Regions from separate parts of the Homo sapiens genome. Here region 2 is linked to region 1. Evidence: fine-mapped expression QTL. Tissue or cell type: whole blood. Region 1 holds a variant in brackets; the other region holds the start of a gene. All regions are shown on one strand. Distances are between the middles of the regions.

Region 1 (8,198 bases):
CTGGGTTTCTGCAGAAGCAGTTGGGCTTACAAGTGGAAGCCTGGCCAAGTCTGTACAATCTTCCTTCCATAGGTGAAGTGAAACCACAGGGAGACAGACAAGAAACAGAGATCAGAACTAATGTTTGTTGTCTATCTGTGTAAGCCACTAATCATGTATTATTTTAGTTAATCCTCATTTTGTAGGAGAAAAACTTGAGACTCAGCTAGCTGACTCCCATTGAGTAAATGGCAATGCCGAGGCTGAATTTCAGGTATGCCGGTCTCCGAAGTCCCTCTACGTTACCCTGTGCCATGCCTCACTGCTTCTCTGTAAAATGATGCACTTTCAAGTCTGTGTGTTTTTAATGTGTTTATACATCAGCTTTACAAATCATTTTTAAACTATTACGTCTGAGGAAAAAAAGGATTAAGTCTGCAAAGGAAAAAAATATTTTACAAATCATTTAGCTTGAGATAACAAAGCCATTTTACCTTGTACCCCCAGTCTGACTCAAAGTAAGACTGTGAATTCTTTTTTTAATTGGCAAAAGAATTATATATATTTATGGTGTAAAATATGATGTTTTAATATATGTATACATTGTGAAATGACTAAATAAAGCTAATTAACATATCCATTACTTCACATACTTATCATTTTTGTGGTGAGAACACTTAAAATCTACTTTCTTAGCAATTTTCAAGAATATATTAATACCTTGTTATTAACTAGTCATCATGTTGTACAATAGAGCTCTTGAAATTATTCCTCCCATCTAACTAAAAGTTTGTATCTTTTGACCAACATCTCCCCAGTCCTCACTCCCTACCAGCCCCAGGTAACCACAATTCTACTCTCTGTTTCTGAGGTTGACTTTTTAACATTCCACATATAAGTGAGATCATGTGGTATTTGTCTTTCTGTGTCTGGTATATTTCATTTAACATCACATCCTCCAGGTTCATCCATGTTGTTGCAAATAACAGAATTTCCTGGTTTTTTTCTAAGGCTAAATAGTGTTCCATTGTATATATATACCACATTTTCTTTACGCATTTGTCCATTGATGGACACTTAAGTTGATTCTCTATCTTGGCTACTGTGAATAATGCTGCAAAGATTGTGACAGTGCAGAGGTCTCTTTGACATACTGATTTCGTATCTTTGGATATATCATATGGTAGTTCTAATTTTAATTTTTTGAGGAACCTCTATAATATTTAAGAAATGACAATACCAATTTACATTCCCACCAACAGTGTGCATGTATTCCCTTTTCTCCACAACCTCACAACACTTATCTTTTGTCTTTTTGCTAATAGGTGTGAGGCAATATCTCGTTGTGGTTTTAATTTGCATTTCCCTGATGATTCGTGATGTTGAGCATTTTTTTCATATACCTGTTGGCCATTTTTTGTGTTCTTTTAAGAAATGTCTATTCAAGTCCTTTTGCCTATTTTTAAATTCAGTTGTTTTCTTGCTATTGAACTGTTTTGAGGTTTTGAATCTCATAAATACATAACTATTCACCTCTTAAAAAACATCTATTTCATAATCCAGGACTCTCAGTGTGTTTCAAATTTTTCTCTTCTGTGCCTTATTGCTATAGAGGATAGTACTAATTCTCTCTGTTAGGAATTCTCTCTCTCTCTCCTTCCCTTTCTCTCTCTCTCTGTGTGTGTGTGTGTGTGTGTGTGTGTGTGTGTGTGTGTGTGTCTTTCTCTCTCATATCTCTCATTCTTTCCCTTTCTTCTCTAAGCTATTTAGAGTTAGTCCAATTTTTTTCAGGCATTTAAAATAGCAAAATAGCTCAGATTAATCAATGCCATGGAACAGCTGAAGTTATTATCCAGTCCACTGATGTGTCGTGGTTCTTCTTGATTACTAAGTTCTTTTGAACATACACACAGAGGAGCATTATCATGGATAGCTTTGCATATCATTTTCTCTGTCTTTCCCTTAGATTTCTGGTTATTTTACTCTTTGTTTAAATCCCCATATTGAAGGTGACTGTGAGAAGGGGGAGGAGCAGCAAATCTCGTCTGGTTTTTGTTATAGCTTTTCTAGTGGAATAGTAGATTCACTTTAGGGCTCAGCTGGAGAAGGGATAGGGATCATGGAAGGCGATCATATCTTATGATATGGAGGGAGGCACAATACGGAATTAAAACCTCCACTATAAAATTAGGATGAGGTTATTTTTGGTATTTTCATTATTTATTATGTCTTCTGTGGAGTCCTAATTAGGGAAAAGGAGTCAGGCTGGCAGGACCAAGGGAAAGCAAAAAAAGAAAGCAGATACCTTTCTTCGTGGTCCAGGACATATAGCCCTCCTGCACAAATAACTCGCAATCTTCCTGTACCCAACTATTACCAGACACCCTGAAGTTAGTTCACTGCAACCTTGGCATTATCAGCACTGCACAAAGCTCTTTTCAGCATACAGCATAAACTCTATTCTATAATATAAACTCTCCAGCCAAGCCTGTTTCTTTGCAGTCAGCTTCTCTCATGCTGATACTGCCAGTTGCCTCTCTGGCAAAATATTTTCCTACTTTCTCTAGTAAATCTGCCTTTCTGTACCTACAATTAATTCTCTTGGTAAATTCTTTTACCCCTGCACCATCGGCTCAGATAGTTGTCTCTCCCCCATAACATCTCCCTTTAATGCAGACCAATAAGAAGGACCTTCCAGGACAGTTTGTGCCTTACACTTATTTTGTAGATCACAGGGATGTCTCATCACAGGGGTCTGGCATGCCAAGTCTGGATACATTCATAATACTTGGCCTTGGTTAGGCATCTTCAGGGGCTGCAGGTACTTCAGAGATCCTCACTTTCAGAGGGATATGGAGAAACTGAAGTGGATATGGTAGCAAAGAGGTGAATGGAGCAAAGTGAAGGCAGAAAAAACTGGGAGGGAAGCAATGAGAGAATTTAGAACACTTCTACAATTTAACTTAAATCTGTTGCAAGGCAAGGCACCATTAAAGGCAAACTACTCACTGTCCATCTTGCTGAAGAAAAGGGAAATGGGAATGAACTTAAAATAGAAAAGAAGGGAAATGGACAGGCCTGTAGAAGCACTTCTGAAGTGGGTTTGTGCAACATTGGAATGAGTTGCTACATTGCAACAGACTTGTCAAGCAGAGGCCTCCAGGAACTCTCACTAAGGCTTAGTTGCCCTTCATTAAAAGTCATTTACATCTGTCTTGCAAATGCCTCCCCAAACATGGGTCCACATGCTTTTGTCTCCACAACTTCATTAGGAAATACATGGCAAAACTTTATTGCTTGTTGTTTCCCGATTTTATTCCTAGCAGATATGTCTTAGTGAAAATCACAGAGTTCTGAGTTCTCAAATTTTAAAATCTTTAAAAATACCGTAATTCCAGGGCTTTCTGGGTTATATGTAAAATCAGATGGAGAAACAG[CT/C]TTTTTTTTTTTTTTTCTGGCCATTTAAGGATAGAGTAAGGGGCTGACCTTATGTTTCTAATGATGGGGCTGGTGCTAGGTCAGAGAGGTCTGGCGGACAAGGGCTCTGAGTTTTTATTTTACTTTATTTTATTTTATTTTATTTTATTTTATTTTATTTTATTTTATTTTATTTTTTGAGACAGAGTCTTGTTCCGTCACCCAGGCTGGAGTGCAGTGGTGCGATCTCAGCTCACTGCAACCTCTGCCTCCTAGGTTCAAGCAATTCTCTGTTTCAGCCTCCCCAGAAGCTTGGATTACAGGCACCCACCACCATCCCCAGCTAATTTTTTGTATTTTTAGTAGAGACGGGGTTTCACCATCTTGGCCAGGCTGGTCTTGAACTCCTGACCTCGTGATCCGCCTGCCTTGGCCTCCCAAAGTGCTGGGATTACAGGCATGAGCCACCACGCCTGGCCAAAGCGCTCTGATCTTACAGGGACTTTTGCTGTGGGCTGTTCTTTTTTGATTTCTCTCTTTTTGCTCCTGGTGAAGGGTCTCAGTGTAGTTTCATCTCTTTCTAGCATTCCTGATGCAAAACACCTACCCAACCAGATGCAATTACTTGGTTCTCTCCTTGCACAAATAGGCAGCTGAATCTTACAAATGACACTGCAACTTGTGCATTCACCCCTTATCTATCTGGTTCTGGGTAACCCTGGTCTCACTAATAAGGAACTCTGGAAGATCCTGGTTGAGCTTGTATTTTAGCAGGCCTACTTCCAGGGCTCATTCCTCATTGATTCCTAAAGCTGGTCATCTTATCTGTATTTTTGAATGAATAAACGTCCTTTCTTTGCTTTTATTAGTCTGATTTCTAAATTTTATTAGTTTTCCCATTTAATGAAAACATACACATTCTCTTATTTTTAGTTAACAAAGAGAAATTGATTTACCACTTTAGGGCAAACTATGTGCTCTCTGGGCTAGAATCAGGAGGGTGGATGGTTTTGCCTTCTTCCTATAGACTGCCTGTTGATTTAATCTTACTTGACCAGGGAAATTTTCAGAGCGGGAGGAGGGAAGACAAGTCTTGTAAATCCTAAGTGCTGGCTCTAGTTCTCTGCCTTGAGTAGCAAAGAAAATCTCCATTCAATTTTCAAATAAGCCCTAATTTAAATCTTTTATTTTATATATTCAATTTCAAAATGATTACGTATTGGCCATTATGGAATTTGGTACCTCCAATCAGTCCACTCATTGTCAAATTCAGGGACAGGAATCGCTGTTGTTTATCTTCCTTAATAAAGATGAAAGGGAACCTGCTTCTCTTCACTGAGTCTCTCTTTTATACCACAATAATCACATATCCACAAACAATTCAATTACCAAATGAACATTTTTTATGGCTACTCTCTGCCTCTTAAGGCATTCCTCAAAGTTTAGGTATAATTTCAAGTTTGTACCTAAATGGAAGACTTTCTAGACTTAATTCTTGATCTCACTTAGATTGGCCTTTTTTTTGGTTGTTGTTACAAAAATGTCTTTTTCCATGAACAAGATTCTTTGAATCTGTCAGTCATTAGCAGATATTTTCTCTTGTACCTATTTTTAAAAATTATTTGTGCATATTTTCCTATTTTATTATCTTATTACTGTTGGGATCCACCAGTACTTTACTGAAGCTCTATTAGAGGCTACTGGTGGTGGATGGCTGCTCAACTCTCTCTCAATCACTCTCCATTGGAGACACTTTTGAGGAAACAAACAATTCAGCAAGATAAAAGAATAATTTTCAGACCAAATAAATTTGTGGGAACTTTGTGACTTCAAAACAGAAATTTTTAACCCTTCATGGGTTCCAGCAGCCTTAGGGAAGCTGATAAATTGTGGACTCACCAAGAAAAATGCTCTATTGCTCACAACTTTTCCTACAACATTTCAGAGATGCGTGGACACTCTGAAACATATCTGTTGATTCCCTGGGGATCCATGAACACCACATTAAATTTTTCTACTATAAAGTTTATTCACCCAGAAAAAATGATGTTTTTCTGCATCGTGAAATGATGCATTTAATTTAATCGAAAAAGTAAGAGATTTATGTATGCATTAGATAAACCAGGTTTTAAGTGGTGTAAGGTTTGAAATTATGAGAGGCCCATTTTATTTAAAGCAGACTACAAGAAGATAGTCAAGCCTCACATAGGCTGAAGCTTTCTAACAGAAGACCCTACATGATTTAAACAAGATTGATGAGTTCATTTACAATGTAAGTGCACTAACCCCATTCCTAAAACAGATTCCATATAATAAACCATAAAATATGTATTATATTTTATTTCCTGTGTTTACAGCATGCTAAGAGAACAACAGAAACATTGTTGCTGTTGAATGTATTCAATACTGTCCTGCCCCTCTTAGGTAAATATGACAAGAATCAGAGCATTACATTATAATAAGACATTTTCCCACCAGTCTAGTCTACAATGGCATACTTTGTACATTGTGCTGCTGTGGTCATGGAATGCAGATTTCTGTCCCTTAATTCACCCGCACTGTACTTTGAGAATGCAAAATATGTGTATCACCAGCATTCTTTTCTTCCAGGACCTGCCAGACATTATTATGACTGAGTATATTTTAATTATAACCAAAACTCTATTGTTTTCTTTGTTTGCAATTTTATTTCCACACATATAATAATATCACTTAAAATAATTGTATGGGACCTCGAGGGGGATACAGTAAACAATATTACTCTCCCATATGGTTCTGAATCAACTGAGAAATAAGACAATGAGTCTGCAGATAGAGGTCAAAATATCACCTTTATTAATAACAAAGTAGACATGATCTTACAGATAATGCTTTTAATGTTTCACTATTAAAGATGATGTTTGCTATGCGGTTTTGGTTTATAATCACTTTAATAGCTTAAGGAAGTTCTTTTCTATTCCTGGTCTGCTGAGATTTTTTTCAAAAAATTACAAACAGACATGAATTTTCAATAAAATAGATGGCATTCCTGCATCTCTTAAGATGATTATGTGATTTTTCATTTTCTGTTCCTGTGGTAATTTACATTAATTCATTTTTTAATGTTAAATCAACTTCAAGGCTGGCACAGTGGCTCATGCCTGTAATCCCAGCACTTTGGGAGGCTGAGGTGGAAGGATCACTTGAGGACAGGAATTCGAGACCAGCCTGTGCAATACAGCGAGACCCCATCTCTAAAAAAAATTTTTTTATATTAGCCAGGCATGGTGATTCATGCCTGTAGTCCTAGCTACTCAGGAGACTGAGGCAGAAGGACCACTTGAGCCCAGGAGGTTGAGGCTGATTGCACCATTGCACTCCAGCCTGGGTGACAAAGAGAGACCCTGTCTCTAAAAAAATTAAATTAAATTAAAAAATAAAAATAAAAAATCAACTTTGAATTACTGGGATAAACTTTACTTTGGTCATGATATAAGGTATAATCTTTTAAATATATTGTAATATACAATTTGCTAAAATTTTGCTTAGGAGTTTTGCAACTATGTCCAAGAGTGAAATTATCTTTTTTGCCGGGGGCAAATTTTAGTTTCAAAGTTATATTTACATCACTAAAAAGGTTGAGGTACTTCCTTTTGTTCTAGTATAGTCAAAGTTAGCATTTTTTTCCTTAATTGTTTGATAGTATCTGCCTTAAAATCATATGTCTGGCTTTATAGAAATATTTTTAAACTATTCATTTAATCTCATGCTTATATGTGTGTTTATGTTTTTCTATTTCTTCTTCAACTTGGAAAATTATATTTTTCTAATAACTTTTCATTTATCTACATTATCAGATTTAATGGCATAAAATTTTCCATAGTATTTTCTTAAAAATATTTAAAACAGCCGGGCGCGGTGGCTCACGCCTGTAATCCCAGCACTTTGGGAGGCGAGGCGGGCAGATCACGAGGTCAGGGAATCGAGACCATCCTGGCTAACACAGTAAAACCCCGTCTCTACTAAAAATACAAAAAAAATAGCCGGTTGTGGTGGCAGGCGCCTGTAGTCACAGCTGCTCGGGAGGCTGAGGCAGGAGAATGGCGTGAACCCGGGAAGCGGACTTTGCAGTGAGCCGAGATCGCGCCACAGCACTCTAGCCTGGGCGACAGAGTGAAACTCCGTCTCAAAAAAAAAAAAAAAAATTAAAACATATATTAGTTTTCTATTGCAGTGTAACGTTACCACAAATTTAGTGGCTTATAGTAAAATTTATCATATGATTTTTTTGCTTTATCTTATCTTACAATATCTTAAAATTTATCTTACAATTTTTCTTTACTATTACAAGTGAAAATTATCTCACCATTTCCATGGGTTGGGAGTCTGGGTATGAACTAGCTGAGTCTTCTGCTCAGTCTCACTAGGTGGAAATCAAGGAGTCATCTGGGGCTGCCATTCTCATCTGAGGCATTGGTCTTCTTCCAAGCTCACTGGTTGCTGGCAGAATCATTTTTTTGCAGTCGTATGACTTACTAGCTGTCATCTGGGGATTGGTCTCAGCTCCTAGAGTTCCTGGCCACACGGCCCCCACAGGCAGTTCACAGCATGGATGTTTGTTTTCTTCCAGGCCAGCAGGAGCATATCACTGTGACTTACAACCCTTCTCTAGTCTGCTACAATGGAATCTTAAACAAGAAAATTTTATATTTTGACTTGCATCATTGAGAAAAACACTGCCAACCTGATCGTGGTTCCTTTGAAGGTAATCTGCCTTTTTTTTTTTTTTTCAGGCTCCTCTTAAGTTTTTCTCTTTGCCTTTC
Region 2 (8,147 bases), 60 kb before region 1:
CAGCCACAGAATCTCACAAAAGGTAGGTATTTAACAAATATTGGTTGGTCGACTGACTAAACAGTATAGAAGTGATTGTTATGTGTGAAAAGAGAGGAAGAAGGCTATGGAGCAAATATATCTTAATAATGAAAAGTTATCTGAAACATTTTCAAATGTGTTCAGAAGAGGAAAAAAAGGAAATATTTGGCAGGGCGTGGTGGCTCATGCCTGTAATCCCAGCACTTTGGGAGGCCGAGATGGGTGGATCACAAGGTCAGGAGATCCAGACCATCTTGGCTAACACAGTGAAACCCCGTCTCTACAAAAAATACAAAAAAATTAGCTGGACGTGGTGGTGGGCGCCTGTAGTCCCAACTACTTGGGAGGCTGGGGCAGGAGAATGGCGTGAACCTGGGAGGCAGAGCTTGCAGTGAGCCGAGATCGGGCCACCGCACTCCAGCCTGGGCAACAGAGTGAGACTCTATCTCAAAAAAAAAAAAAAAAAAAAGGAAATATTTGAGGTAGTATTCTAAAATAGGTAAGGAAAGCAAAAGTATAACTACCCTGGAGTCATTTATATAAAACTAGGAAAAAATTAAAATTCAGAATAATAAAATGTACTTTCAGTTTTAGGAAAATTTGCAGATTTTAAAATGAGTTAAAGGTGGGGCGTGGTGGCTCACACCTGTAATCCCAGCACTTTGGAAGGCTGAGGTGGGTGGATCACCTGAGGTCAGGAGTTCGAGACCAGCCTTACCAACATGGTGAAAGCCCATCTGTACTAAAAATACAAAAAAAATTAGCTGGGCATGGTGGCGCACGCCTGTAATTCCAGCTACTCGGGAGGCTGAGGCAGGAAAATAGCTTGAACCCAGGAGGCAGAGGTTGCAGTGAGCTGAGGCTGCACTACTGTACTCCAATCTTGGCAACAGAGTGAGACTCCATCTCAAAAAAATAAATAAAATGAGTGAAAATTTTTAATAATTGGCTATTCATGGCAACTGAGAAATAGATTTGGTGAAATATATGTTGAAACCACAATAGGACAGAGTTCTAGGATGGAAGAAGAAAATAATGCAATATACTTCAATTCAACTTAAAAGGCTTGGCTGTATAAGAGACAAGAGTTAGGGACCATTTAAAATTACAGCCAATAAGGTAGAACACTTCTATGAAACAGTACATATCAAAAACAATAGGGAAAATATAATACACAGTATCAGCTCTCTAGGTGCAACTGCTTAGAAATCTGTGTTCTTATTATAAGCTCTTTGGGAATAACGATACTGATTTTTTCAATAGTACCTGAACACATGGTAGGTTCTTAACATCTGTTGAACCAATGTAAAGTTTATTACTTTAGATCCTAAGAAATTCAAGACTTGAAATAAATAAGCACATTACCCATATGAAATTGTTTTGGTCATTTAATAATATATAATGTTTTGGCGGGGCGCGATGGCTCACGCCTGTAATCCCAGCACTTTGGGAGGCCGAGATGGGCGGATCACTTGAGGTCAGCAGTTCGAGACTAGCCTGGCCAACATGGTGAAACCCCGTCTCTACTGAAAATACAAAAAAATTAGCCAGGCATGGTGGCATGCACCACCCCTGGTAGTCCCAGCCACTTGGGAGGCTGAGGCAGGAGAATCGCTTGAACCTGGGAGGTGGCGGTTGCAGTGAGCTGAGATCGCGCCACTGCACTCCAGCCTAGATGACAGAGTGAGACTCCATCTCAAAAAAAAAAAAAATATATATATATATATGTATATATAGTCTTTTGCTTTATTTTTTTTTTTTTGAGGCGGAGTCTCACTCTGTCATCTAGGCTGGAGTGCAGTGGTGCGATCTCAGCTCACTGCAACCTCAGCCTCCCAGGCTCAAGCAATTCACGTTCCTCAGCCTCCTGAGTAGCTGGGATTTACAGGTGTGCACCATCACGCCCAGCTAATTTTTGTATGTTTAGTAGAGACAGGGTTTCACCATGTTGGCCAAACTGGTCTCAAACTCCTGACCTCAGGTCATCCACCTGCTTTGGCCTCCCAGAGTGCTGGGATTACAGACATGAGCCACCATGCCCGGCCTATTTTTGCTTTTTGTGATTGTGTATCCCTTTATATATTATATACTATAAATTCTGATAGTTTCTATTTTGTGAATCAGTAGCCATTTATAGTAGATGTAAATTCCATTAAAAGAATGCAAGTAAAAATATTCATATGTATCGATAATTCAAATTAGGTATTTTTCTCCCGTTATCATGCACGGATAAGCTGACACACTTGTTTATATGTCTCTATGACATTTTCTAGATAGTTTAGATTTGGCATGTGTTTTAATCTCTCCAGTAGCCACTAAACTGCTCTGAGACAAGTATCTGTATCTTATAATTTTTTTGTTTCAAGGAAAAAAAAAGACAAGTGCATTTGAGTTGGTAATTCCAAGAATGGCAGCAGAAGACAGAGCATCTAAAGCAGGAGGCTTGGACCAAAGTGGTTCTGTTGCCTGTAATCCCAGCACTTTGGGAGGCCAAGGCAGGAGGAACTCTTGAACCTGGAAGTTCAAGACCAGCCTGAGCAACATGGCGAGACGACCCCAAAACCCAATCGTCTCTACAAAAAAATTCAAAAATTAAAATAAATAAATAAAGTCGTTTTGTTAACCATTTCTGGGCCATGATAATCGGATGAAACTAAATCCTGAACTAATTTCCCGGGCGCTCTTGGGCTCTGGGCTAAGAACTCCTGAGAGTATGGTCAGTGGTCTGCTGCTGCCTGGAAGCTCCCGGTAAAGGAATGAAACTTCAGGGCAGACAGCATTCACTTCAGGAATGGTCAAGGAAAGCTAAATTCGATCTCACTAGACAGCAGCCCGTGTAAGGTTTGATCCCCTTGGAAGGCCCTTTCCTCTGCTAGAGCTGAAAGCCCTGTCTCCCTCGTTTTCTTTTGCTACGGGATCCAGAGAAAACACCAAAGGGCACTTACTGAGAAGCTGAAAAAAAAAAAAAAAAAAAGCAAACTGGAAAAGAGAAGACACAACAGCTCTGATGCGAGGGAGGCCTCGGCCCCGCCCCCTCCCGCCCCGGGAGAACCTTGGCCGAGCCTGCAGCGCCCGTAATCCCCACCGCACCTGCTGCGGGAGGGCCCGCGGCAGCTGTCTCGCTGAGGCTAGGGGGCGGGGGGCAAGGGCACGAAACGCAAGGACGTGCGGTGTCACTTTCTGCACGGGCTCTAAACAGATCGCAGCAATCCCGGTAGGTCCGGTACTGAAAGAGAATCACGCAATTTGCGCTGGGGGGCCTCAGACGCGGACCAACCCCCTCTTCGATCTGCCTTCTAAGGCCCGGAAATAAGTCTCAGCCTCGAGAACTAGAGCACTTCGACCAGGGAGTAGAGGAAGCGTTATTGGGCGTGGTACCCTGGGTTAGGAAACCTGGCTGTAGACCCACTCCAAGGACCGCACTCACCGAATTGCTGGGCTGAGGTGGGGGTTGAAAGCCGCTGTCAAGGCGTGACCCGGAAGCAGAAGCTGTCGGGGGCAGGCCCTCTGTTTACCGGACTAGAAGACCAACTAAGATGGGCGCCTGCGCACTGATGAGTGTTCGTCAGCGGGGCGCGCCTGCGCAGACTTGTGCAGCAGCTTTCGCCCTCCAGAGGCCTAGTTAGGGGGTTACTTTCTCCTTTTACTCAGAGGCTTTGCGCGCAGGCTCAGTGCAGCGTTCTCGGCCACAGCCGCAGGGTTCGGGTCTTGGTCCTGCAGCGGGGATAAAAAAGCTCAGGAACCCTGAGTGTTGGGCCGATTCTATATGGTTGCACCTGCGTGGACCAGGCCAGCAGGGGTCCATCCACAATGGTTCAGTTGCTTAGGAGACTAAACTCTTAGTAGGAAGTGTCTTTGACAAAAATACTTACAGCATTATTCATAATGGTGGAACGAATCTATGCTCCTTAGAACCCTCCTGTACATGTCCACCCTCCTTCAAGTAAACCATATCAAAGACAAACTCAACCACCCAAGAGGTGTAGTATTCTAAATGTAGAGGAATAAATGACCTTTATAACTCTTATTAGGGTTAATGAAACTTCCCGCACAAAAACATGATGACACCTCTGAGTGACAGACTTTCTGTGCAAAGCATAAACATTTTGAAGTCAGCAGCACATGGTGGTGGTGCATGGAAGGAGTGAAGCAGCAGCCCATTTAGGCAGACTGCAAGAGTTGTGGTCTGCCCGGTAGCCTGTTTAACCAGAGTGCCCCACACCTACTCCCCAGAGCTTGTTCTAAGCAACCAAATCTAACCAATTAGAGATTTAAAGCAGGCCCAGACAGATCATGTACATCAGTAAGAGGATGGTAAACTGAAAGTTCATGACCTGGTCTGAGGAGTGGGCCTCCTTTGAGCTCCAGACTCAAAGGAATTTTGCCAGGTAGGAATATGCCCTCCACTTCCTGCCACTGCACCATGGTGAGATCGTCCATTTTTCAAAAGAAGCTGAAATACAGATTTTTTTTAAAAAGTGAATTTTTCCAAGTTGCAAATGTTGGCAATGTTTTTATTATTATTATTATTATTATTATTATTATCATCATCATTATTTATTTTTGAGATGTAGTTTCGCTCTTCTCACCCAGGCTGGAGTGCAATGGCGTGATCTCGGCTGGCTGCAACCTCAGCCTTCCGGGTTCAAGTGATTCTCCTGCCTCAGCCTCCTGAGTAACTGAGACTACAGTCACCTGCCACCACACCTGGCTAATTTTTTTTTTGTATTTTTATTAGAGATGGGGTTTCACCATGTTGGCCAGGCTGGTCTCAAACTCCTGACCTCAGGTGATCCACCCTCCTCGGCCTCCCAAAGTGCTGGGATTACAGGCATGAGTCACCACACTGGACCACATCTCTCAAATTTCTTGGTTGGGAAATGCTGAAGTATATAAATTCTGGGAAACCATCAGCATCTTACAAATGTAAGAATGAGCGGAGTCTCCCAGGGAGTGATAAAATAGGCTCTCAATACAGGTTATTTTACTTATTTATTGAAAAACTGAGTACACTTTTATTTTACTTGGCCTGCAACTCAGTATATGCAGAAAACTACTCTATGTCACACTCATGATCAATATCTTCTTATTTCCATTTGGCATGTCATTGAAAACCTAGCCCATCACTTAGCTAAAAATCACATAAGAGACCCCTAGAGAAATCAAACTAACTTTTTTTCCCCCCAAACAATAGATCTCATCTTTATTAGTCAAATCAGTACCTGCTGATAGGGCAGTGGAGCAAGCCTGACAGTGATATTCATTAACAAAGAAGACAAAACTTATGCTTTCAAGTACAAAGATAAACTTTGAATGGCAGAGAGCCTAATCTGACTATCATCAGCCACCAAGAACACAGAAGAGCAAATAACTCAAGAAGAGAGAAGCCAAAGTGCTATAAAAATTATTCTTTTCTGTGAAATTCAGTTCCACAGCCTGTATGAGCAAGGGTCCAAAACACTGGAGAGCCAATAAAGCTGCTGGGAGGGCCCATTCATAATGGGAGATGCACTGGCTGTGCCTCCCTTGCTGTGTCCTTCCATGAGCGTCCTCCACTCTTCACTGACTTCATTTAGACTTGGTCCTCTGGTCTCACCACAGCTACCTGGGAGACTTTGAGTTGTAATCTTACAGTTTCAAGAGTCTATTTTGACTGAACCCAGGAGTAACATGCCAATCCAAAATAGAAACATTCTCATGGTACAATGGTGCAAAGGTCATTCTGTAGGTTGCATATATATAACATATATATATACACACAATATATATATTACATATGTACTATATATTACAGATATACTATATATATTACATATATATACACAATATATATATTTCTATGGAAGACAAAGCTTCCTTTTTTTTTTTTTTTTGAGATGAAGTCTCACTCTGTCACCCAGGCTGGAGTGCAGTGGCACGATCTCAGCTCACTGCAACCTCCACCCACCTCCCGGGTTCAAGCAATTCTCCTGCCTTGGCCTCCTGAGTAGCTGGGGTTACAGGCGGGCACCATCACACCTGGCTAATTTTTGTATTTTTAGTAGAGACAGGGTATCACCATGATGGCCAGGCTGGTGTCGAACTCCTGACCTCAGGTGTTCCACCCACTTCGGTCTCCAAAAGTGTTGGGATTACAGGCGTGAGCCACCGCGCCTGGCTGCTTCCTTCCTCTTTAACAAGAGAATATTGCACCCAGCATCACTGCTTTGGCTAGCTCTTTTTTCCTGTGTGCCCTCATGTGTGCAGCAATTGAACTGGCTAACAATTTCTGCATTCTTCCTGGTCTGGCCAAAATAATCTGGAAACTCACCATCTGGCCCAATCAAAGACATTGTTATTGTATGATTCACTAACATGGTCTTCATCTTCATCCTTGGGGCTAGAGCTGTAATATACTCTGTATGCTCTGGCCACGTGATTGATCTCTTCTTTCGTGCCAATCAGGCCAACCAGTTTGGGAGAAAATTCTTTCACATAATTTGCAATGGCCTTTTTTATGTCCCTCTCTGGGTCAATGGTGATGAAAAGTTAAATTTGGCAGAGTTGGAACACTATCTCACCCACAACTTGAATTATTTTTTTCTAGTTCTTCTGGACAGATATCAGTAATGACTGAAACCAGAATAAATCAACAGCCACTGACCCAGGTAGTCTTTGTCAGTTTCAGGCTCTCCAAATGTGTTGTGAGGGAAAATGGTCCCCCAGTAAAGGCTTGTTGATGCTTCACTGCTGTTCCTTCTCTAGCTTCTCTGTCTTTTCTATTTTGAATACTTCACTCCAGGCAGTAAACCTCCTCAGATAGCAAATGTGAATGCTAAAGACTTCCAAGAAATAGGCCTGGGCTTCAAGGGGCATGTGCAGTCTCTGCAGTCCTTCTGCTCAGGCCCTGACCACCTCAAGGGTGGTTGGTGGTATCACTGCCTGAGGGGCCAGCTTCCCAGGCAGCTATCAGCAAACCCCCAGTCCTGCCACACTTCCTCTTGCATGCAGAATTGCCTTGGCAACACTCTCACAGTCTACTTGGCTGGGCCCCAAAGCTCATGTCAGCCAGGCAAGAGACACCAAAGTTGGCCCATACTGATTACTTTGAAGTGCCTCAGAGAATTCAGTGCGCAACAAAAGTTGGTTTCGGATACATTCAATCATCCTTTCATCAAACATTTACTGAGCACCTACTTTATTCCAGGCTTTGTGCTCAACTCTCCAGGGAAGACAGAAATGAAGACAGACAGTCTCTTATTATCAAGGGTTGGGAGACAGATATGAACATCCTCAACTGCAATTAATGATGATTATTTCAACAACATTGTTATGTCCAAAGTCAGTGTTGACAAACAGTTCTACCTCATGGTGAGATCAAGAGAGTGAAGGAAGGAAGGGTCTGTGAAGAGACTTCTTGGGGAGAAATTTGTATGTGCTGAGTCCCTACTCTCCTCCTACCCAGAGGGAAAGGAAGTACTGATGTTGCCTAAAGAGGGGCTTCTGTGGGACCAGAGAACTTGAAGATTGTTCCCCATAGTTGTAAAACAAAAACTGCACCAGTGCTTACTTATAAATTAAAGAGGGCTGTAGCCACAAAGTAGAGGTGGCTACATTGGTATCTGTCTGGACACCCAGATTCAGGAGGGATGACGAATGTATAAATGTTTTCCTGGACCAGATGTGGGCCACATGGAAGACAGCCAACGTGGGGTTGCCTTCGGTCTATCCAAATGGGCTGTCTAGAGGTATAGGGGGACCCGGTGGCTAGAAGCCAGAAATGAACACAGGGATGCTACAATCCACAGTTTGTCACAGTCAACCACTTGCATTGGTTTTGGCCAAAGGAACTCAAGTAAGAGATCTCTGATGATGGGAATCTGCAAAGAACCTTTTAAAGCAAGCTTTAAGAAAAAGAGTCAGCTTTAACCATGTGCAAGACCCAGGTAGTACAGACCTACCCTACCAAGAAAGAAAAACCTGCCCTATCTCCTTAGCTTTCCTACCTCCTCCCACTTTTACACAAGCAGGTTCAATAGCAGTTATCTAGTGGGGGAGGAAGAAAGTTGAGGAGAAAGCTGCAGGCAGCCACCAGCCATATGCCTTACATGGAGGAGGAGGAAAAGCAGTCTTAGATTAGTACCTTA

What was found. PIP is the estimated chance that this variant, and not a neighbour inherited with it, causes the effect.
Region 2: it holds the start of ASB8, and the variant in region 1 is fine-mapped to the expression of ASB8 in whole blood (INTERVAL, PIP above 0.99).

Annotation. Positions count from the first base shown.
Region 1 is chr12:48,213,921-48,222,118 of GRCh38, forward strand. It overlaps LOC102725258 (a long non-coding RNA gene), which reads left to right. Exons shown (of 3, transcript XR_001749122.3): 2 at 8,006-8,140. Among named protein-coding and RNA genes, the nearest start is that of OR10AD1, 15 kb to the left of the region's middle. RefSeq lists a silencer at 1-153. The variant CT/C (reference allele first, on the strand shown) is at 3,417.
Region 2 is chr12:48,154,011-48,162,157 of GRCh38, forward strand. It overlaps ASB8 (ankyrin repeat and SOCS box containing 8), which reads right to left and starts at 3,505. Exons shown (of 4, transcript NM_024095.5): 1 at 3,449-3,505. It also overlaps the pseudogene LOC100421855. RefSeq lists enhancers at 3,289-3,811, 3,316-3,365, 3,386-3,435, 3,466-3,685.